Linked DNA regions of Homo sapiens. The protein of the gene in region 1 interacts with the protein of each later gene in a biochemical or structural test. Each region holds a gene or a part of one and is shown on either strand. Other genes may lie near its edges.

What was found.
Region 2: the proteins of ERBB4 (region 1) and SYK form a complex in vitro, tested with the Homo sapiens proteins (2 studies listed by BioGRID and IntAct, with this or other methods).
Region 3: the proteins of ERBB4 (region 1) and ITCH form a complex in vitro, tested with the Homo sapiens proteins (2 studies listed by BioGRID, with this or other methods).
Region 4: the proteins of ERBB4 (region 1) and RASA1 form a complex in vitro, tested with the Homo sapiens proteins (2 studies listed by BioGRID and IntAct, with this or other methods).

The regions. Positions count from the first base shown.
Region 1 is NC_000002.12:211,415,789-211,422,831, reverse strand, and holds part of ERBB4 (receptor tyrosine-protein kinase erbB-4 isoform JM-a/CYT-1 precursor), read left to right. Parts: intron 1-727; coding exon 728-825; intron 826-2,220; coding exon 2,221-2,391; intron 2,392-7,043. UniProt on the Homo sapiens protein: Tyrosine-protein kinase that plays an essential role as cell surface receptor for neuregulins and EGF family members and regulates development of the heart, the central nervous system and the mammary gland, gene transcription, cell proliferation, differentiation, migration and apoptosis.
Region 2 is NC_000009.12:90,895,791-90,899,064, reverse strand, and holds the end of SYK (tyrosine-protein kinase SYK), read right to left. Parts: 3' UTR 516-3,274; downstream 1-515. UniProt on the Homo sapiens protein: Non-receptor tyrosine kinase which mediates signal transduction downstream of a variety of transmembrane receptors including classical immunoreceptors like the B-cell receptor (BCR).
Region 3 is NC_000020.11:34,506,239-34,512,282, forward strand, and holds the end of ITCH (E3 ubiquitin-protein ligase Itchy homolog), read left to right. Parts: intron 1-1,456; coding exon 1,457-1,556; 3' UTR 1,557-5,535; downstream 5,536-6,044. UniProt on the Homo sapiens protein: Acts as an Acts as an E3 ubiquitin-protein ligase which accepts ubiquitin from an E2 ubiquitin-conjugating enzyme in the form of a thioester and then directly transfers the ubiquitin to targeted substrates.
Region 4 is NC_000005.10:87,368,861-87,375,903, reverse strand, and holds part of RASA1 (ras GTPase-activating protein 1), read right to left. Parts: intron 6,092-7,043; coding exon 6,004-6,091; intron 3,787-6,003; coding exon 3,709-3,786; intron 1,742-3,708; coding exon 1,584-1,741; intron 1,065-1,583; coding exon 988-1,064; intron 1-987. UniProt on the Homo sapiens protein: Inhibitory regulator of the Ras-cyclic AMP pathway. Stimulates the GTPase of normal but not oncogenic Ras p21; this stimulation may be further increased in the presence of NCK1.

The DNA.
Region 1 (7,043 bases):
TCAGAATTTAGCTCTGATGAAATTAATTATGTAAAACCAAGAAAACACTTTCCCTAATGGAGAATTTTACCTTTCTTTCGGGGTTTTAATACCTAAGAAGAGGATAATTTGGCAAGAAAATCAAGGAAAGCTTGATACTTTTATTCTTGTCATCTCATTAGCTAAACAGAGCCTGTAGAGATAAGGTCTGCTTTATCTAGACTCCCAGCTAAATAAGAATACATACCTTGAAAATTGCTGATAGTATTTTTATACTAGACAAGCTAGTACTAAGATAAGCTAATGTCTATTGCTGAACAGGCATTACCAATCACTTTGCATTAGTTTTTTTTTTTTTTTTTTTGTCCACCAGGACAAATGTAGCACAAGAAAGTTGCTTTTAATTCCTCTTTTCCCGTTTGTGCCAGTGTAAGCATTGTAACCAAATCTTCTCTCCTATGTCACTCCTAATACAAAATAATAACTTATATTGCAGTCACGTCTATACACATCAGAGAAAAAATTTATCTTTTGTTTTACAGTACATTACATTTAGTTATGAATATCAACAAAGAGACCGATAAAGCCTTACCAATTGAGTCGTTTCTTTCACTAGCTTGCTTTCTTTCTCAGATCATTACGATTAAAACAACATTTTTCAAACTTTTGCTCATATTTTCACAAAATTTAAATTTCAACTCCTTTCTAGTTACGAATATAGTGACATTTTCACTGTGTAAATTTCCAGGTTGGATGATTGATGCTGACAGTAGACCTAAATTTAAGGAACTGGCTGCTGAGTTTTCAAGGATGGCTCGAGACCCTCAAAGATACCTAGTTATTCAGGTGAGTACATTTGACTTATGCCTTTAAGACTAGGCCAATGGCAAACTCACTGCAAAATGAGTAGTATCAGGACTTTGGAACTGTGGAAAGGACCACAAACATGTTGATTAATTAAGCAGAATTATCATGTGACATGACTTATGGAAAAGAGCTTTTTATTTCACGTCAGATCCACCTTTTAGCACCTTCCCTTAGTATTCAAGTGGCTCTGCTACTGAACAGATAATTATGATTATACATATACATAAAGAGGTCTTAATCCTCAGACACTTATTTTAGCACCTTGATTTTATTAACATTATGTGTAAGTCATGTTCATTAGTATAATTTTCTTTTTTCGGAACAAAAGGAAGACAGATTTTTGTTTTAATCTTGCCCATGCTTGAAGACAGTGAATCAAAAGTTTCAGTATATTATTTAATTTCCCCAAAAATATTTTAAAATATGTTTTGTTTTATTTGGAGAGATATGCAGTATCTAAGCAATAACTCAATTCAAATGAATTGATGCACATTTTAATCAACCAACCAAAGAAATATTTTATATTTAACACTAGAAAAATAGATAGACTTGGATAATTAAAAAATAATAATATATTTCTCTAGGATTAATTTCACCTAAACTCTAAACAAATGGGCCTTGGACTAGAGTGTATTATGTTTCCTCAGTAAAGCAAGGTAGCCTTTATTTTCATATCGACAGTCTGACATAAAGATAAAAGCTAGGTTTTAGAAGATACTTATTTCCATTTATTTTTTCCCCAAAATTAGTTTTCATGAACTGAAATTGTTTCCAAAAATTATGTAACTTTAAAAATATAGGAAAAATACTTAAGAAATAGACGAGGTGAGGAAGAGCATAACAAAGGTTTTGGTGTCTTTCTCATACTCCTTTACTCTATTTGCCACTTGCACTGTGAGTTTTGAATGCCCCTACTTTGATAATGCAGTCAGTATGCTATAGAATAAAGTATAGACCCTATGGTCCTGATAATCCTACAGCATCAAACCAACCAAATAAACGTTGATAAATTGATCACCTTTTATTGTTTATTCTTAAAGTTGCAACCCATACACTATCTGGGCAATGAACAATTATTTTCAGACCTGAAATTGATTTTACCTCCCTAAAAACATCTTTTGATTTTGCTTTATTATTCTCTAATGGCATTTATCATATTCTCCTTGTATAAAGTTTGTTTACCTGGCCCTATCATTTCTAAGCATGTTATAGGTTTCTTAATGGCCGGTGGTTGTGCTAAAGACTTGTTTTTTTAAAATGTGTGTATGAATTTTTCAACCATTTGTTATGATATTACATAAATTTATTGCAGAGACCACATATTTAAGATAAGAAAGAATCATATTTGTGTCTGATGGGCAATCTTTCTTTTAGGGTGATGATCGTATGAAGCTTCCCAGTCCAAATGACAGCAAGTTCTTTCAGAATCTCTTGGATGAAGAGGATTTGGAAGATATGATGGATGCTGAGGAGTACTTGGTCCCTCAGGCTTTCAACATCCCACCTCCCATCTATACTTCCAGAGCAAGAATTGACTCGAATAGGGTAAGAAATAATTATATACACATATCATATTCTTTCTGAGATATAAAATCATGTAATAGTTCATAAGCACTAACATTTCAAAATAATTATATAGCTCAAATCAATGTGATGCCTAGATTAAAAATATACCATACCCACAAAAGATGTGCCAATCTTGCTATATGTAGTTAATTTTGGAAGACAAGCATGGACAATACAACATGTACTCTGAAATACCTTCAAGATTTCAGAAGCAAAACATTTTCCTCATCTTAATTTATTTAAAACAAATCTTAACTTTAAAAAACAATTCCAACTAATAAAACCATTATGTGTATATAAATAAATGAAAATTCCTACCAAGTAGGCTTTCTACTTTTCTTTCTTAAAAAGATATTATGATATATTAGTCAAGAAGTAATACAAGTATAAATCTCTTTCACTTATTTAAGAAAAATTAAATATTTTCTGTCAAGTTGAAGTAGAAACACAGAAAACCGTGCAGTCCTTTGAACCTAATCACATCGAAAAGGCTGCTGAGAAGTAGATTTTTGTTTTTAAGAAGTAGATTTAAGTTTTGAAGGAAGTTTCTGAAAACACTTTACATTTTAAATGTTAAACCTACTCTATATGAATTCCATTCTTTCTTTGAAAGCTGTCAAATCCATGCATTTATTTTTATAAATTCATTCCTCATACATTCAACATATATTGAGTACCACTGTATGTGAAGCATTAGTATACATTTAAGACTCAAAGAATTTTGATACAACTTCTGCTTTCAAGAAGTGAAAACCTTAATCAAAGAATCATACAGATAGAGGGACTGCATAGTAAGTGCTGTAATCCAGTATTCACTGACCAGTACGGAGCATGAAGAAGTAGTAAATTTGTGTCTGTAATCAGTTTCTTCCATTGATAAGATATAAACATGATGCTTAATTTTTTCTAGAAGATAATTCTTTTCTCTTAATCTAAGAACATTATCATAGCTAGTAGAACCGACAGCATCCGATTTCTCTTGACCATAGCCATAAGAATATTTTCAACTTGCTGCTCATTATCTAACAAACATAATTTTCTTTATTTCATATTGATTGTAATAAGTAATATTCCCCTGGTGTTTACTATTCAACACATATATGTTAACCTCCTTAATCCTTAAACAAACTTCATGAGGTTCTATTATTATCATCCCCTTCTTTCAAAGGAAGAAACTTGCCACAGAGAAGTCAGGTGATATGACTGGTGTCACACAGCTAGTCAGTGGAAGAGAGGAATAATGTAATCTAGATATCTGCCTACTACACTGTAGGTTTGCTTCAAAGTTACTGAAGCATGTTATTTCCATGATGTGATTAGAGTCTGGGACTTGTCTTGTTTGGGAAATTTCCCAGGTGGTTTTCTTATAAAATGCATCTCAAATCTGCTCTACACCTTTTACTCATCTACCTCCATTTAGAAGATCTGATATGGAAAGAGACAAAGATGGAGACCTCAATTATTTTTTCTTTTCTGTTAAAAAATATTATAGTACAAACTGAAAACTTTATCACATGCCCAATGGGGAATAGATAACTAAAAGTTTTAAAAATTAGATCAATGGATAGGTAATGAATAATCAGTCTTTTGCTTGTGAGAGGGGAAGAAAGCGGTTAAGGTGTATAAAGGAGGCTCTCTGTACACTTTGCAAAATGATCAAATTATATACCCTTGTATTTATAATTTTAAGTGACAAATTCATTACTTCTGGTTACAACAGTGAAATTTAAAAAAAAATAGTTTTTCTTTCTTAGCTTGCAATGCTATAAATCTTTTTCTTTTTATAAGAATTCTTACATTTCAGCTTTTTGTTCATTTTAATTTATAATTCTCAGTGCAAGAAATTCTTAATAAAGGTTTGAGCTAGCTAGATGGAATTATTGAGACAAAGTCTAAATCACCCGTGGACTTATTTGACCTTTAGCCATCATTTCTTATTCCACATTATAAAACAATGTTACCTGTAGATTTCTTTTTACTTTTTCAGTCCTTGGAAAAGAAATGGTGATTAAATATCATTGTATCATTTTATGTTCAGGCATTTAAAAAGCTTTATTTGTCATCTATATTGTCCTAATAGTTTTCAGTCTGGCTTTACGTAACTTTTACGGAAATTTCTAACATGTACAAATGCCATGTTCCTCCTTTCTTTCCTACATGGCTGAATTAGAAAACAAATTACTTCCATTTTAAGTTTGGCTAAATTAGAAAACAAATTACTACCATTTTAAGTTTGGTGGCTAAATAACGTGCTAAGGGAACATCTTAAAAGTGAATTTTGATCAAATATTTCTTAAGCATATGTGATAGACTTTGAAACCAAAAAAAAAAAAAATAATGCATTTTGAAAATATAGGCTCCACTGCGCACTAATTAAGAAACTTTAGGTAATGTTCTGAATATCTCTATGACTTTGTTTCCTCATTTTCTAAATGCTATATTGCCTATCTTATATGAGTGTTAGGCAATTAACTTTAAAAAATTGCAGAGTATTTATAATGCCAGGTAAACAAATTTTATTACTCTACTTTTAGAATCATCAATTTCACTTTTCATTTTTACCATTTCCATTTTTACCTTTTTCCTTGTCAATATCATATATCATAAATAATCACACTTTCTTATAAGGTGCTCTACCCACTATCTATGAAAAGCTTGTTGATGCAATTACTGCTTGGCCAGCAAATTATTTCTGCTGATGTGTTCTAATATCAAATAAAGACAGAAGTAATTTTTTATAGTGCTTTTGATTTTTTCAATTCCACAAATATTTTGATAAATTACAACTTTAAAGCAATGAATCAATTCAAAATACAATGTTTATATTTGTCCAGAAAGTTGATGAATACAAATTTAAGTCATGCTAGAAAACACTTACCTAATTTACAGCTGCTGTTACTATTGTTAGATATACTTTTAATATTACCTTAAAATTTTTTCTTTTTTGAGACAGGATCTCACTCTGTCACCCAGGCTGGAGTGCAGTAGCACGATCTTGGCTCAGTGCAACCTCCACATGCCAAGCTCAGGAGATCCTCCCATCTCTGCCTCCAGAGTAGCACCACAGGTGCATGCCACCCTGCCCAGCTAATTTTTTTTTATATTTTTTTGTAGAGACAGGGTTTCCTTATGTTGCCAAGGCTACTCTTGAACTCCAGAGCTCAAGCAATCCACCCACCGTGGCCTCCCAAAGTGCTGAGATTACAAGTGTGAGCCACCATGCCTGGCCTCAAATCTTTTTAAGCAATAATACACCAAAAGCTATTTTACTCTAGCGTGATGTAAAAATAGGAGAAAATGAGAAGCTATTTAACTTCTGCAAACCGTGCTCTATATCTGTAAAATGGGGATTTAAAAATTTTCTCACGGAATATTATGAAGATTACCTTTTTAGTGTATGCATGCACGTTACCTATTAATGGACCTGGAATAGATGCTCCAATAGTGTGGAAATAAATGAATATTAACCAAACGAAAAAAGCAAAGAGTATTTATTCAGAGACTGCTATAGCAAGAAAGTCAGCTCCATCAGTTACATTTTGGCAGAGACTTAAAGGCCCGCAGAGGAGTGGGAAAGCTGTGTAGGGTTAAAAAAAAAAAAAAAAAGGGAAGGCTTCATCTATGCCCTCATTAGAGACTGTTGGCCTGGGGAAGCTATAGGCAGGATAACTAGAAGCCATTGGTTAGAGGTGCATGTTTGACTTTTTTCTGTTGGTCTGAAGTTGGAAGCAAGGACAAAAATTAGGAAAGCTGCCAGTTATTAATCAATTCTGGTCATTTGGAGCTGATTGTTATACAAGTAATTGTGTAGCTTCCTGGGTTGTTACTAGAGATAGCAATCTGACTTCCTGCAAATCTGATTTACAAAAGGCTGGTTTGCTGGGCTGTTTATTGTAGATAAGGAGGTTTGCTTCCCAATTTGTTTCTATTTTTACATATGGTCAGGCCATTGTCCCTTTGTATATTCAGTCTATTGGATTTAGTTTCCATTGCGGCCTTCTTTTCTCTAGATATTTAAACACATGCTGCCTAATATTTTCGATTACATGTTCAGCATAATTTAAAAATTCTCCATAGGTTTTTTTTCTTTCTTTTTTGTTACAATGGCTAAGTTTGGTCTTTTGAGTTACCTAGAATTATATTTTTTTGATATAATAAATTGTATATTAAATGAAATAGCAATGAATAAAAATAGTGAATAAACTGATGTGGCTGAAGATATTTTAGCTTTAATGATATTAGAAAATTTAATTTAATGTAAAAGCTTCCATGTATTTTTATAGAGGAAGACATAGTTTCAATTGCAAGCCCATCCAGTCATTTGTAAGCAATAGTTTTAAGATTAAATGCTCCTCTGTCAAAACATATCAGCTAACTCTTAATTATCTCAGCCAGTGGAAGACAGAGAAATTGTAGCTACTCCACATTAGTGAAGTGAGTAACCCGCAATGGATTTATCATCACAATGTAACTTCTTTTTCCCTTCTTTTCTATCTGCTAAGAAGTAACTTTATTAAATAGATTTATTTGCATTTTCCTCTTCCTCTTACACGCTTTCTCCCAGAATAGATATATAAATAAACTGAAAAATAAAATGTAAGCAGAAGTGAAGAAGAATGAAGAAAATTAAA
Region 2 (3,274 bases), on another chromosome or scaffold:
GGCAGGACAGGGCCCTCCCTGATGGGCCTCCCCGCCGTTCTGTGTGGTGGAATCTCACAGTCAACTTTGACCTGTGCACATCCACTTTTTTTTTTGAGATAGGATCTTGCTCTGTCACCCAGCTGGGAGTGCAGTGGTGCCATCACAGCTCATTTCAGCCTCGACCTCCCAGGCTCAAGCAATCTTCCTGCCCCAGCCTCCCAAGTAGCTGGGACTACAGGTGCATACCACCACACCCGGCTAATGTTTTGATTTCTGCAGAGCTAAAGTCTTACTATGTTGTCCAGGCTGGTCTCAAACTCTGGGCTCAAGAGATCCTCCTGCCTTGGGCTCCCAAACTGCTGGGATTACAGGCATGAGCCACTGCACCCGGCCAACACATTCACTTTTTTGGGACATGGCAGGGACTTAATGTTTTAGAAAACATTTAGCTACCCCTTTGACAATGCTGCTTGACACTATTTGACAGTGTGACTTACCACATCCTAATAACTTCCATGAAAATCATCACAAAGCAAATTTTAAATTTTTATTAAAAATCACAGTTTTTAAAAATGTCCAGTGACACAATGTAGCTCTTCTGAAATGAATGGAAAACACAACACACTGCTAACCAGTGGAGGGAGCTCTCTGCAGGGCTGGGAGACCTGACAATGCAGCTGTAGCCTCTGCAAGTGAAAATCCAGGCCGACTTGCAGTCATTGGACTGATGTCCAAGTGCAATCACCATACAGCAGCTACAGGCAGGGCTGGCTGATAGGGAGTATGGGAGAAGGACACGCTCAGATGAAAACATGCATGCAACGATTTTCACCACTGAACACACTGTTTTCTGTGATAGAAACTGTCGGCCCTGCTGGGGGACAAGATATTCACGGCCTCACTAGCCAGTGTGATGCCACCAGGGCAGCCTGCCCCTGATGCTCCTTTGTTACCTGCTAAAGAAGGACCATAAGGTAAAAGGCACCTTACCTTATGGAGTGAGCCCAGACCCCAGGGAAAAGCTTGGGTAGAACAATCCAAGGGGCAGCCTGGGTATGAGAATCCAGCCCAAGCTAGCTGCTCTAGAAGCCTGGAGGCCTTTCCCAGCTTCCCAAATGTAGCCCTTTTCACATGACCAATCCTTCAATTAGGTTACCTTTCTCTATTTGCCCTCCTTGGTGGCTACAGGGGAAAGGATAATTATTCCTGACCACAAGACACATTTTCACTAGAAAAGACTTCCTCGTGCTGGCCACAGTGGGAATTCTGCACACAGGTGCCTGCTCCACCAAGCAGAGAGGCTCAGGAGATTGTCCAGGGACAAGGAGACCTGGCCGGACCTCTGCAGGGAGGTGAGGCCCCTGCCCCCATCTTGTCCCATCACATTCTGGATGTTTGGCATCCCCAGGCTCCTGGGAGGGGAGAAGTGCTGATAAAAAGGCCAAAAATCACACAGAAAGAAGACAGAAAACTCCACGCACTTCCTACATAGGTGCTACCGTATTCCTACGAGCACGGGGCCTGTGTTGAAGACTCCCTCTGGAAGTTACAGAAGGAAGCCACCAAGAGTTCAGCCTCACAGCCTCTTTCTCAGATGCAGTCACCACTTTACCAAACTTGGCACATCCAACCACTCCTTTCATAATTTTACACCTGTTTGTGGCCTGGCTGACAGATATTTTGTCATTGATCTTTCTAATTTCAGGGATTCTAAATGTGTTTTGAGAATCTGCTCAGCACTCAGGGATTCTGTCTTTAAAAATATGATTAAACCACCAGATAGTGTGATTTCAGAAAGTGTGCGTGGCTACCAAAAACTTCTAAACACAAGTTATATGAGTGACTCCTGTCTTCTGTGGCTGAGCTTGGGTACTGATTGTCTTTCTCCATGCCTTGCATCCCCTGTTAGAGGAGGGCCTGCTGTCCATGGCTGTCCATGCACTTTAAAATGTCTCAGGTTTAGCTGAAGACCAGATGGGTCCAAGTTTATTTATATCTGCTGGCATAAGAATGATGGCTAAATTACCTCTTTAAGTTGTTTTTTTGTTTGTTTGTTTTGACAGAGTCTCGCTGTGATGCCCAAGCTGGAGTGCAGTGGCATGATCTTGGCTCACTGCGACCTCCGTTTCCTGGGTTCAAGCGATTCTCCTGCCTCAGCCTCCCGAGTAGCTGGGACTACAGACACATGCCACCATGCCCGGCTAATTTTTGTATTTTTAGTAGAGATGGGGTTTTACCATATTGGCCAGGCTAGTCTCAAACTCCTTACCTCAAGTGATCCACCCGCCTCGGCCTCCTAAAGTGCTGAGATGTCTCTTTAACTTTCAAGAGGTACAGCAAAACTGAAATCAATGGGTGATGACTTCTTAAAGATCAAACATGAAGATGAGGATTAGTTAAGACCAGAAAATCATTCTCCGATCTTGTATCTTCAACTCAAATTCACACTCCAAAAGGCCTGTTTGTGGTGAGGCTCAGGGTCTTTGGCTTGTTCTGAATTAATACTTTCTTTGGAAACTCTTTAGATGGCTTTGATCCCTGTGCTGCCCCCCATTGCAGACACAGAAAGCGACAGGGGATTCTGGCGGCACCCTCTCTGTGGAGGAGAGGAAGGTGTGGACCACGTTCAGAGGAAGGCAGCCTGAAGCTGTCCTCAGTGAGATGCTGGGGGATGGGCCTCTTGCCCCTGCTGTGCAGCCTCCATGCAGGGCTTTATTTACCAGTCACCAGGTCTTCAAGACAGTCTGCAGGAGAGAGGATTTCAGGGGGAAAGTAAGCCAAGCCAATTCATTCTCATGGTCCCCTTTTATCACAAACATGTAAGTCTTCCATCTCATAACAGAGACAGCAAAAGCAGTATCCAGGCCTTTTTTTTTTTTCTTTCTTTCTTTCCTTAACTGGCTACATGCTTAGAAACTGCACTGGTCAAACTTGATTTTCTTTTTAAAGCCTCAAAACATTTTTATTGTCAGGAAAGCTTTTCAGTGGCCAGGGATCAGTCTCATGGCCGTAGAAGCAGCCAAATTCCTCTGCCTTTGCCTTCCCTTCAGGAGTCACATGCTAAGGCATCCTTGGGCATTTGGAAAAGGCCGCTTGGGGTGAGAGTGCTCTAGGCCACTCTGCAATGTCCCTGGGCCCGATGAGTAACAAATGCACCCCGGGACCCAGAGAAGTGGAAAGACATGAAAGGGATTTGGAAACAGATCGTAAAAATAACCTGTATGAAAATCACACAGACAAGAAAACAAACAAATCCAGCTAGCCCCTTGGATCCTGCCATCCGTCTTTTCTC
Region 3 (6,044 bases), on another chromosome or scaffold:
CTTTTTGTAGAGACAGAGTCTTACTTTGTTGCTCAGGCTGGTCTCGACCTCTTGAGCTCAAGCAATACTCCTGCTTTGACCTCCCAAAGTGCTGGAATTACAGGCCATCATGCCAGACCTAAAACATTTTTCATCTTGTAAAATTGAAATGGTACCCATTAAAGCAGGGGTCCCCAACTCCTGGTCCCCAGCCTGTTAGGAACTGGGCTGCACAGCAGGAGGTAAGTGGAGGGTGAATGAGCATTACCTGCTGAGCTCCACCACTTGTCAGATCAGCAGAGGCATTAGATTCTCATAGGAGCAATAACTATTGTGAACTGTGCATGTGAGGGATCTAGATTGTGCATTCCTTACGAGAATCTAACCTGAGGTGGAACAGTTTCATCCTGAAACCATCCCCCTCTCCACTCCTGTCCATGGAAAAATTGTCTTCCACAAAACCATTGCCTGGTGCCAAAAAGGCTGGAGACTGCTGCTTTAAACAATGACTCCCCATGACTCCCTTTCCCCAGGTCCTGGCAAACATCATTCTACTACTGTTTCTATGATTCTTTAGTACTTCGTAAGTGTAGAATCGTACCTTATTTGTCCTTTCCTGGCTGGCTTATTTCACTTAGAATAATATCTTTAATTTTCATCCATGTTGTAGCATGTGTCAGCATTTCCTCCTTTTTAATGCTGAATAATATTTGATAGTCTGGATATACTACATTTTGTTTATACATTCATCTGTCCATGGACACTTAGATTATTTCCACCTTTTGGCTGTTTATGCTGCTATAAACATAGGTATACTGTGGTAGAATATAGATATATCTGTCCATGGCCCTGCTTTCAGTTGTTTTGGGTATATACCCAGAGGTGGAATTCCTTGATCATGTAGTAATTCTATTTTTAATTTTTTGGGGGAATCTCGCCATACTGTTTTCCATAGTGACTACACTGCGTTATATTCCTACCTGTAGTGCAGAGGGGCTCCAATTTCTCCACATCCTCACATCCTTTTCAACTCTTGTTTTCTTCTGTTTTTTTTTTTTTTTTTTTTTTTTTTGGTTGTTGTTGTTGTTGTTTTGGTGTTTTAAATAATAGCCATCCCAACAGGTGTGAAGTGGTATCTCATTGTGGTTTTTATTTGCATGGTAAAGGATGTTGAGCATTTTTTTAATGTGCTTATTGGTCATTTGTATGTCTTTGGAGAAATCTCTATCCTTTGTTCATTTTTAAATATTGTTGAGTTTTAAGTTTTTTATATATTTTGGATACCAGTCCTTTATCAGATATATGATTTACAAATATTTTTTCCCATTTTTGGGTTATTTCACTTTCTTGATGGTATCCTTTGAAGCACAGTAGTATATTTTTGTGCTTCTATAGTAGTGTATAAAGTAGTATACTACACTACTCATTTGATTCTTTGCATATTTCCTTTTCTCAAACTAACAATTCTTGCTTTTAGTTTTAATCGCCTGGACCTGCCACCATACAAGAGCTATGAGCAACTGAAGGAAAAGCTGTTGTTTGCCATAGAAGAAACAGAAGGATTTGGACAAGAGTAACTTCTGAGAACTTGCACCATGAATGGGCAAGAACTTATTTGCAATGTTTGTCCTTCTCTGCCTGTTGCACATCTTGTAAAATTGGACAATGGCTCTTTAGAGAGTTATCTGAGTGTAAGTAAATTAATGTTCTCATTTAGATTTATCTCCCAGTGATTTCTACTCAGCGTTTCCAGAAATCAGGTCTGCAAATGACTAGTCAGAACCTTGCTTAACATGAGATTTTAACACAACAATGAAATTTGCCTTGTCTTATTCCACTAGTTTATTCCTTTAACAACAATATTTTATGTGTGTCAAAAGTCTCACTTGGGAGTAGTGTTTTTTTCTTTTAGACATTCTGCAGACATGCAGGGAAGTCCTTTGGTAACTGCAATATACAAGATTTTCCTATTAAGCCTCTTGGTAAGAGGCATTTGTTAAAAGTGCAAGCTTACTCCTGCTTCTGGGGATGTGAGCAAAATTCGGGCTTGTGTTCTCCCTCTCATTTTAGTCTGACTTGACTATTGTTTTTCCTTTCTGGCGCATGAATCCATACATCATTCCTGGAAGTGAGGCAAGACTCTTGCATCTCTACAAAGTAGTTTTGTCAATTTGAATTCAGGGAAAAGTTGGTCACAGCCTGCAAATGACTTCATTTGGAAGTCTGATTGTTTCAGTTGCCTGACAAATACTACACTTTACAAACAATGTTAACACTGTGATTCCTTCATTGTTTTAAGAAGTTAACCTAGGGCCGGGCATGGTGGCTCATACCTGTAATCCTAGCACTCTGGGAGGCCGAGGCAGGAGGATCCCTTTAGCCCAGGAGTTAAAGACCAGCCTGGGCAACATAGGGAGACCCTGTCTTTTTTTTGGGCAGCGTGGTGGGGGATAAATAAATAAAAGGAAAAAAAACTTAGCCTAGAATTAGAATTAATTTAATTGAATTCATCTAAAGATGTCTCTGGTGATTTTTATATGTTCCGCTATATAATTGATGCTTTATAGTTTTATCATAATCCAACAACTTCAGTTATATTTAATTATTGTTAAGGAGTTTAAGACTAGAAAGACTAGAGTGCTTTCTAGTCCAAATAGAGGTCAGTGAAACAGCTTTTGACATCAGATTTTCATTTGAGAGGGAGAGCTGTGGTACTGGCTAAAAAGAAAGGAAGATAACATCCAGTAACCACAGGAATATATTCTCTGTGAATTAAAAGTCTTCAAAGTTATCATTTCTCTGACATATGTTGGAGTAGTCATTTCCATTCTTTACATTGTCATGAACTGGATTGATAACCCTCATCTGCAATATTTTCACCCCTAAAATTTTTAACAGGGTTTCCTTTTTTTCTCACGACTATTTAAGTTTAGATTGCTCCATTATTAACTGATTAATGCACTTTGAAGTTCTCTGGAATTAATTATTTTAACTTGGCCTAGCTTCGACTGTCAAGGTGGCTGTTATAAATTTGACTTCATTGGCAGTGGATGAAGCCTAAGCCAGCTGAGTCTCTATCATAGCTGAACCCTGAGGACAGCCTCATAGCTCATGTATCAGGGACTTTTGCCACATTTCAGAGGCATAGCATGAACAAGTAATATTAAGCCAAGAATAAGCAGCAGAACCCTGTTCCATATGGAAAAAAGAAAAACAATTTTTTGTCCCTAATGTTCTTCCTTTTACATCCTGGAACAACAATAAAAACATTTTTTTAAACTTGTCTACTGTAAGATACTGCCATCATAAAGCAGAGACTTACATGAGTGAAAGGGTTGCCTCATCAAGCAGCTCAGTGTAAATGGGGAGGCTAGGCTCTCCCCAGCCCTATGGTTTTTTTATTTCATGTACCCCAGGAAATACTGTGTGGTTTCTAAAAGCCCTGGTTGTTAAAAGTAGGGACTCTGCCTTTTTGTTGGTAGGGAGAAAAAACGCTATTGCTTTGTCTTACAGAGCGAATGTCTGCCAACTACCCGTTCATTATATAAGTCTGAACTTGGTAATATATGGCTAATGAAGATTAAGCCCTCTATAAAGACTTCCTGTTGAGGTGAATTCTCATACTGAAATGTAGTTACCTACAATATTTACTAGAGATTTATGAAATTAAATTAAGAGATAATGTAAGAAAATACATTTTTTTGGTTCTATATAATGCTTCATGATTCATTTAGGGACCTAGAAATATTGTGTGAAAATATATAAATATCACCCAAAAGGCTTTCTGCCCTATATTTTTAAAATACAGAATAGTTATATTTGAAGTAGCCCTGGCCCTAGTTCTATAGGGCTTGGCTATTTAATATTTTTATGGAAGAAGTGTTTAGTTCTGGAAAAGGTAAATGCTTGTATATATTTTTGCAGCCTGGGATCTCCCTACTCCATTTTTTCCTTTAATTTAAGTGGCCACATGTATATGTCTTCCCTGCTGTGTTAGGAAAATGGGGGCTGGATATCCCAAGAATCAGAGGTTATATAAAAATACTGCAAATAGACCGCAGACATAAATATCTACCAAATGCTATCTTAAATTTTGGTCCAAACTGAACATATGGAAATAGATTTATTGTAAGTATTTACTTAGAGCTTTTTCTTAAATCTGAACTAACTTGCTTTTAGAAGTCTTTTTCTTTGTAAGCATTGTAAATGCTAATAAATCCTGTTAATTTTTTTTTTTTTTTTTTTTTTTTTTTACTGCATGTTACATTGAAATAAAAACAAAGTAAAATGAGCAATTGCCTTATTGTTCTGCTCTTTTGCAGGGGGTGGGGGTTGGGGAAGACAGCATTCCACAGCCTGGTCAGGAGGGAAGGACCTCACTTGTTTCATCAAATGGAGTGGTTTAAAACTGATCAAGCAGCTCATAATAATGAATTCCTGCTCTGTCTTTTATTATCTTATGTCAGAGTGCAGCAAAATCTCATTTCATAAGACTTACAATAACTCTATTTAAAATTCAGGTATTGTACTCGGGAGGCTGAGGTGGGAGGATCCCAGGAGTTCAAATCCTGCCTGGGCAACATAGCAAGACCCTGTCTCTTAAAAAAACAAAAAGACATATTCAGGTACTGATTTTTCATCAAGAGATTGACATACCAATGATCAGAAATTTTAGTGAAACTTGACTCAACTATACACAAAGTTCTCATCCTAAATGAACTATTTCAGTCAAGCCCACTCTACCACTTTTTACTTATCTGGTTAATAATCCGAAATGTTACCGGGGTTGACTCACGGAATTAAATTTTTCCTCTATTTTTATATCCTTTCCTGTTGTGGATGTAACTTACCTTTCTAAACTCCTTTAGAGTTAACGACTTCTATTTAGTATTGTTGGTATCTCCAGCCCCCCTCCTTTTTTTGTTTTTCTTTTAGTTATTTACTTTGTTTGTATAATTTGCTTTCATTAACTAAAAATGGAATTGGCAGCACTGGATTGTATATTACTGTATTAAGAGTACCTTTGTTTTCTTGATCTGTTACTTTTAATACTCAGGTAATGCTACAAATATTACAGGGAGTCAAATGCTTTTATAAAGTTCCTTCAGTGGTTGCCTCACTTGCGTTTTCCTACAAGATGTAAGACTGTTTATAATTAAACTTTTTTGGTCCTTCATTTGCATGCTTTTCTATCAGTCTTGGGTAAGGAGGGGTCTCTTTCCTCTCTCCCCGGCCCCACCTTCTGAGACTTATATGTGACCAGGTCACATAGATTTCTGCCTCTCTGCTTTTTTAAGTGGCAAGTTACAGCCCATCTGGATTGTGGTATTGTTCCCAGACCAAATCAAGGGTTGGACTGCTTATTCTCGCAGCCCAATAATGAGGTGCAGATGAACTGAGAAAGGAGGGAGTTTATTTCTGTAACCAGGTATGGGGAGAAAGCCTGGAAATGATCCCAAGACCAACTCAAAACTACAAAGTTTTCCAGAGCTTATTTACATTATAAGCTATATGTCTACATGTGAGTGTACATTCATCTAAAGACATAAGTGATTCACTTTTTTAAATCTATAAATAAGATCTGAGCCCTGAAGACCTTCCTCTGGAGCCTCAGTAAATTTACTTAATCTAAATGGGTCCAGGTGCTGGGGTGATTACCCTTATCTTGTTTCCTGCTAAATCATGGAGGTTTGGGGACTTCCTTCAGACCCCCAGTAAACTTGTTTGTGGAGGCCTTCAGACCCCCTCAATAAGTTCCTTCAGACCCCCAATAAAACTTGTTTAATCCTAAATGGGTTCCTTTGTTATCTTGTCATGCTTCAAGGCCCAGAAAAGGCCTGGGCAAAACCCTTGGTGGCCTTTTGTTACATTCTAGCCTTTGCATAAGGGCCCTCACTCTTTCAGCTTTTAATATTTAACTTAACCACTCAGTGCTGAAACAGTTGTTATGGAGGCCTGCGTTATTGAGATCTGGCCTGCCACGGTACGGGTAGAAAAAAACTAGAAAGAGCTGTTGCAGATGAGACTGGATTTGGTGCCCATGTTGAAGATGAAGATATCTGCAG
Region 4 (7,043 bases), on another chromosome or scaffold:
GGGGTTTGGATTTTATCGTAAAAGTAATGGAAAACTAAAATTACTACAAAAAACTACAGAATAAACATTTTATAGAGAAATATTCAGGCTTTGATCTGTTAATACATATCACTTCCTTCCCTAAGCCTGAGTTTTAAGAAGGTATTAACCTAATTCACCCTGATGTGAACTGGTAAATCTCACTGTCAACTGTTTTAGCAGCAGGATGGAAGGAGCTGTGCTGCTGAGGACAGGAACTGGGAGCCTTTGACTACCAGAAGTGAATAAGTGACATATTCAAGTTTAAGGGAAATTTTTAAATAGAATAAATGACATTCAAGTTTAAGGGAAATTTTTAAATAGAATACTTTTTTACTTATATGGTAATGTAATCCCAGCATTTTGGGAGGCCGAGGCCGGCAGATCACCTGAGGTCAGGAGTTTGAAACCAGCCTGGCCAACATGCTGAAACCCCGTCTCTACTAAAAATACAAAACTTAGCCAGGTATGGTGGCGGGCGCCTGTAGTCCCAGATACTCAGGAGGCTGAGGCAGGAGAATTGCTTGAACCTGGGAGGCGGAGGTTGCAGTGAGCCGAGATCACACCACTGCACTGCAGCCTGAGCAACAAGAGCAAGACTCCATCTCAAAAGAAAAAAAAAAGCAGGAAAAACCTAAAAAGTAGAAAGAAGGGATGAGGGCAAGCCCTACAAAAAGACCACTGTAATCATTTCCTTATTCTTCCTATTCATTGGAGAAAGGAGGGTGGCTAAATATTTTAATCTTAATTGCTTAACAGTGTGTACAGTTGAACCATATTGGTCTTTTTCTATCTTAGGTATATTCTTTCTTGATAATCAATACTTTAAGAAGTACAGAAAGAAACTATCTCAAATTATACTACTTGCATTTCTGTTTTTTTAATTTCTATTTTAAGACTTTCATTGTGAATTTTGAAAGTATATAAAACATGCTTTTTCTATTTTAGAAAGTTTCTGTATCAACTTACAGATATCAGGATCTTTGCTTTTCTTTGTTTTATTACTAAGAGTTATTTCAAATCTATTGATGTCAGGAGGAAGATCACTAAAGGAGCAAGGAGAAAAAGAATTAACAAAATGTTTTGGCATCAAACTACCTTATTTCTTTAGTTCTAGTATCAAATAAACCCCCTATTTCTGCTTTAAAAAAAAAAACAGTGTGCTAGACCTAAAACCAGATTCACAACATATTTTATTATTTGGTATACAGAAGACACGCAGATTACACACTTTTCCTACCATCTTTAACCTCCTAAACTAATAATTCATTCAAATAAGTACTGGAAACCCTAGTAAATGTTTTGTATTTGTGGGTTAGTAAATGTTTTTTGACTTGCTAATTCATGTTAATAACTAAGTGGAAAAACCAAGGGCATAGCACTTCACAAATAAAGGTGAACAAACAACAGAAAAAAAAAAAAAAAATATATATATATATATATGCTATTAGAACACCTGGATATGGTACCTTGTTCTGATGGTTTAGATACAGAGACCAAAAAAACAGAAAGAAATGCAATATGGTAAAAGAAAATGATTAATGTAATGATAAAATAAGACTTACTCAAAGACAAACTCTTCTGACCATACTGGGTTTTGCCCTTCCCTTGCATGAGTTTTTGCTACTTGGACACTATTCAGGTAGATGTTACAATATGGATTAGTAAAATGTTTTACTGGGAGTTTATGGGCTTCTTCAATATGTAAAACAAGGCTGCTGACCTAAAAAAAAAAAAATATATATATATATATTACCCCAGATTTCTAGAATTGCACTACATTTCAAAAGCAATTACTCTAAGATACAAAGCCAAAAATAATGACTTATTTTCCCCTTTTTTTTCAGAAAATGTGAGCTTTGGTTATATATTTGTATATGACATACTTAAAACATTCAGACATTTAAAATAATTCTTCCCACCTAAAAGATAAAAACAATGCAATTTTATTTTACAAGTTATTTCTCCCAGTATATTCCTGGAGAAATAATGAAATACACCTTTTCTACCATAAAACAATGATAAAGAGAAAATGAAGTTAAGAAGAAAATTCTTTATTAATATAAGTAAACAACTGTCACTACTCAAATTAAAATCCCGTATGTTATATAATACTTATCTGGAAGATTCTATTTCTATAAAAGAGTTCCACAGCTAAAAATTTTTAAAACACTGACTTTACCTTCTTATTTTACAGGAAAGGATACAAACCTAAAGAAACTAAGTTATTTGTTAGTTTGGATGCCAAAACTTAGACCATCCACCTTCTAGTATCAGGTTCTCTTTCTCTCTTGCCATATACTACTTGTGTGGCCTTGCACAAATCCGTCCCTCTAAGCCTCATCTTTCTAATATGTAAGTATAAAGTCTACACTACAGGTTGTAATAAGTATTACAAACTAGTTATCCCTCAGTATCTGTGGGGGACTGATTCCAAGACCCTCCACCTCTCTGTCCTGGCAGCTAACGAAGCCCAAGATGCTCAAGTCCCGTATAGAAAATGACATAGTATCTGCATAAAATCTATGCATGCCCCCCTGTATGCCGTAAATCATCTCTAGATTACTTGTAATACCTAATACAATGTGAATGCTATGTACATAGTTGTTATACTGTATCTTTTTATTGTATTTTTTCGACCCATGGTTGGTAGAGTCCACTGATGCAGAACCCATGAATAGAAAGGGCTGACAGTATATGTAAATCACTAAATCACACTGCCCACTGATACATAAAAAGTGCTTGAGAGATGTTAGCTATGATTATATTAAACCTGCAAATGTCATTTTAATGGCTCAAGTTTCACACAAAATACAACTTGCTCTTATTAGCAAAAATCCAATCTGATTTTTGATAGCTTACAAAATGTTACAATGTTATGAAGACATGGCGATTGTGTGTATACTTAAATTTCCCTGGGGAAGAGCCAGACTTTGGGTTACAGGGACTATTTAGTCACCTAAATATCAACCATTATCCACTCCCAGTAGAACAGTATGTTAATCACTCAGCTTATCAGATATTCGCACAAAGAGAACAGGAGACACTTTGGTTAGTAAATAAATATTGTACTAAACTTTCTTTAAACCTTGAGAATGTCAAAATTTGCCTAACTTCTTCCAATTATACAGGGATTACTAAAAAGAAAAAAGCCAAGAAATGGAGGTTATAAAGTTACCCTTGTAAAGGCAAAAAAAAGAGAAAGCCTAGCTTAACTCTCCACAAATCTCAAAGTATAGGGCATGTTACAGTTTCAAATAAGATTAAATATTTCCTAAGAGTTAAGCAGTAGGTTTTAAAAGCTGTTCTTCAAAATGAAAATCCCAAAAAAGTTTATTGGGATTAGTGCTATAAATCTGATGATCTTTTCAATGTTCTACTTTTTTGAAAGAGGCCAAAATAAGTTTTTGAAGGAAAATTAAGTGCCCAACAGAACCGTTTCTGCTGTGTTGGTTTAGTGTTGTTATTTAAAGTGGAAGAATAATCTTTCTTATGTTTTTAACAGTTGGCATGGACTAAGAAAGAACATTCTCTTTCATAAAGAAGTAACGTTTTCCTGCTACTGAAGCAAGTGGCAGCATGGCTTAACCCCATATGATGTCCAAAACAGTTCAGATAAAAATAAAATAAAAAGAGCAAAGTGTTAGAGCAAAATGTGACAATTAAAAATCCAAGAAAATTAAGCTTCACCTGACGAAGGCGTTTATTGGATGTCCCTGGACTACTTTTCCGTAAATTGCAAAATGCCTGCAGACCTTTCATCCAATCCTGCAAAGAAAAACAGCACTTCAAAGAAATATACACTAGTTTATTTGGCTTCCAAATCATCAGTTAGGTTTTTTTTTTCAAATTCAACAATTTTTTCCTTCTCTAGACTGCCATTTCTATTCTCAGACTATACTGTACTTCATAACAATAACCAATAATAAAATAACAATAACATAACAATAACAATAATAAAACAACCAAAACAATTGTAATTCTGTATAAATCTTTGTTTGAATTTATGTATGAAACACATCGAGTGGCCATTAATTAGCCAAAAAATCAAATTTACATTAAAGAAACTATTTCTCCCAAACAGATACTACCTTGGGGAAATTAACTGTATAATTAAGCTGTTATACTTGAGGCAAGCTTAGGTGGAATTTAACTTGATACACTTTGTGAGAGGGGGAGAGTGCTGATTGTAAAACCAACTGATAATGTGATGACCGATCCCATGACAAGCATATTAATCTATACTTTAGACCATGATACAGGTAGAAATGTATAAGGGGATTTGGGTTATTTTTAAGCTTCTCAAATATAACATTAGATTTTAAAAATCATTTTAGCCTAATATTCAAATCAAATTGCAGCCATATTTTTAAAATGTTTATCTAGTGCTTTGGGGAAAAGGAGAGAACTAAGGTTTATTAAAAACAAATCTAAATATTCACTTTGGTTTTTACATATTTCTGGAAAGCTGTGTACTATTGCTTTATTCAATTATGTCTTTAGTTTGTTGGCTATTTCAATGAAGCTGAACTTTATTAATATCTAGAGACTGTCTTTATATTACAGCAAATTAAAACCAAATCAGTTACCATAGCTTTTTGAAATAGAAGAGAATAACCAGAGACCCCCACAGCCCAATAAATCAACAAAAACTGGAAATACCATTTATGGAAATACAGAAATATTATGTATAAATACATTAAAAAATGTTCTATGTTAGGCTTGCAAAACATGCTGAAATGTCATTATGGTATGTGACATTTTATTCAGAAAGAGGGACCATGGTAAAATACTTAGAAAATAGGATACTGAAGTTTAAATTTCTAACTCAATTTCTAACATTTAAAAAAATCATGTAAGTTACCAAAATGTTTTGAGCACTACCTTTCTCATCTAAAAATTAGGGATACATAGCCGTAAAATTTTATGTGCATTACATGTGAAATGAGCATTAAATGAGATATTTGATAAAGATGTGAAATATGACGTTCAGTTGTAAGCTCATTCAGGTTTATTCTGTGAGTCTCACGCTAGGATCTAGTTTTAAGAGCATCTTCCTCATATCTAGGGTTGGCAAATTATATTTCCAACAAAGCCACTTTCACTTCTTAACCACCTTTAAGTTCCTTCGTTAGAATATAAGCAGAAATTTAGCTGTATTTGTATAAAATACAACCATATACTCCAGAAATATTAGGGTTCAAAGAAAGCAAAAAAATTTTTTAAGAGACAGTGTCTCAGTTTGTTGCCTAGGCTGGCTTACAGTGTCTCGATCTTACTCACTGTAACTCAAACTCCTGTGCTAATGCAATCTTCCTGCCTCATTCTACCCAGTGGCTGGGACTACAGGCATAAGCCAGAACACCTAGCTAATTTTTTACTTTTGTTATAGAGGTGGGTTCTCCCTTTGTTGCAAAATATTTTTTAAAGAGTGTTTTTTAAAAAATATTATTTCTTCACACAATTACTTAATAGACGCTATAAGAAGGACACTGCACATGGATTAATAGCTAATCTAAAGTAGACATTATATCTCGACTTGGCTTAGAGAATAGATTCCTAAAATATCTTTCCTTGTGTTGACTGACTTTTATTTTCAGACATGGAGTTCAACCAGTGAAGAATAATGCTTGTTAGCAAAACTAACTGGTTAACTGGCTTACCTTTGGATTATACTGAGATGACCTATAACCTTTATGCAGAGAGGATTTTAAATGAGCATTCTCAGTTGGCCTCAACATCATAGAGTATTTAAAGGTCAATTTAAAATGGAGTTTTCATTCCTAATAACCCTTCACTGTGTTTGTTTTTGCATTTCTTTCAGAAAACTTTTTACATATGAAATCTCATTCCTTAAAATAAGAGATGATTAGATTTCAGGCGTTCTGTCACTTTATCTTGAATGCGATCATTTTCTATTCCAGTTAATAAGAAAACATGGGCTAACATAAAAGTATACTGTAGTTTGAGAAACAGTAATCTTACCTCTGCTTGTTCTGGAGTTTCTCCTGCAAAGTAAAAGATGTAATGTTCTTCACTAAAGTGCTGAACTACTATCTGAAAACAGTTTGGCCTTTAAAATAAAAACAAAAATTATTAGGAAGCTTAATAAAAAGTAGCAAAATATTTATACCAGCTTCCAAAACACTCACAATAAATAATTAACATAAAATTATAATTCTTAAAGAAATAATACTCCATTGTACCAGATCATTACTAAAAAAAAGTCAGCTATATATATTTTAGAAAACTTTATGTCAGCACTATTAAAATGTTATCAGTATTTCAAAGTGTAAACTAAAGAAATTTCAATTAATTGTAAAATACATTAGAAATAAAGTTACAAACAGATTGAAGCTGAACTGCTAGAACTGCACACAGCTAATTTGAAAAGCTTTATATGCACTGGAAAAAGACTAGAAATGTTCTTAGACCAAAAATGTTCTAAGTAATTATCTCTAAGGAGATTGTAGGTGATTCTGTATTTTCAAATTTTTCTAAACTGATCATTTTTCTTCACCTGTTAAAATGGAAACATCATCTCTTCATACATATGCTTGTTCTAGAGTTTAAGTGAACAGTTGTGTACAACAAATGTTCTTGTCTTCCTTTAGTATTATTTCAAATCATTTGATATGTAAGTACAATATTAGGTAATAATTTATATCATTTTGGAAATGTGCTATCTTTCCAACTAGACTTGAAAATATTGGTAAAATCTTTATTAAGGGCCTGCATGTTTTTGGAACTCAATAAATGTTACTTCTGTTTCCTGCTTTAAAGATTTTATATCATGCTAATGTTAGGAGGCCATAGCAAAAATACACAGAGGACAAGCTTAACACTTATTAAAGATAAAGACTATATTTTCATGCTTTGAGAATGTCTTAAAAGTAATCATGGAAAATAGGAATTGGAAACTTCTAATCCTAAATGTTGCCTGTATCAGACTAACCACCCTAGTTGGATAAAACTTAAAATAGTAATACAAAACAGAAAAACAACTGTTTGAAAGCACTGGAGAA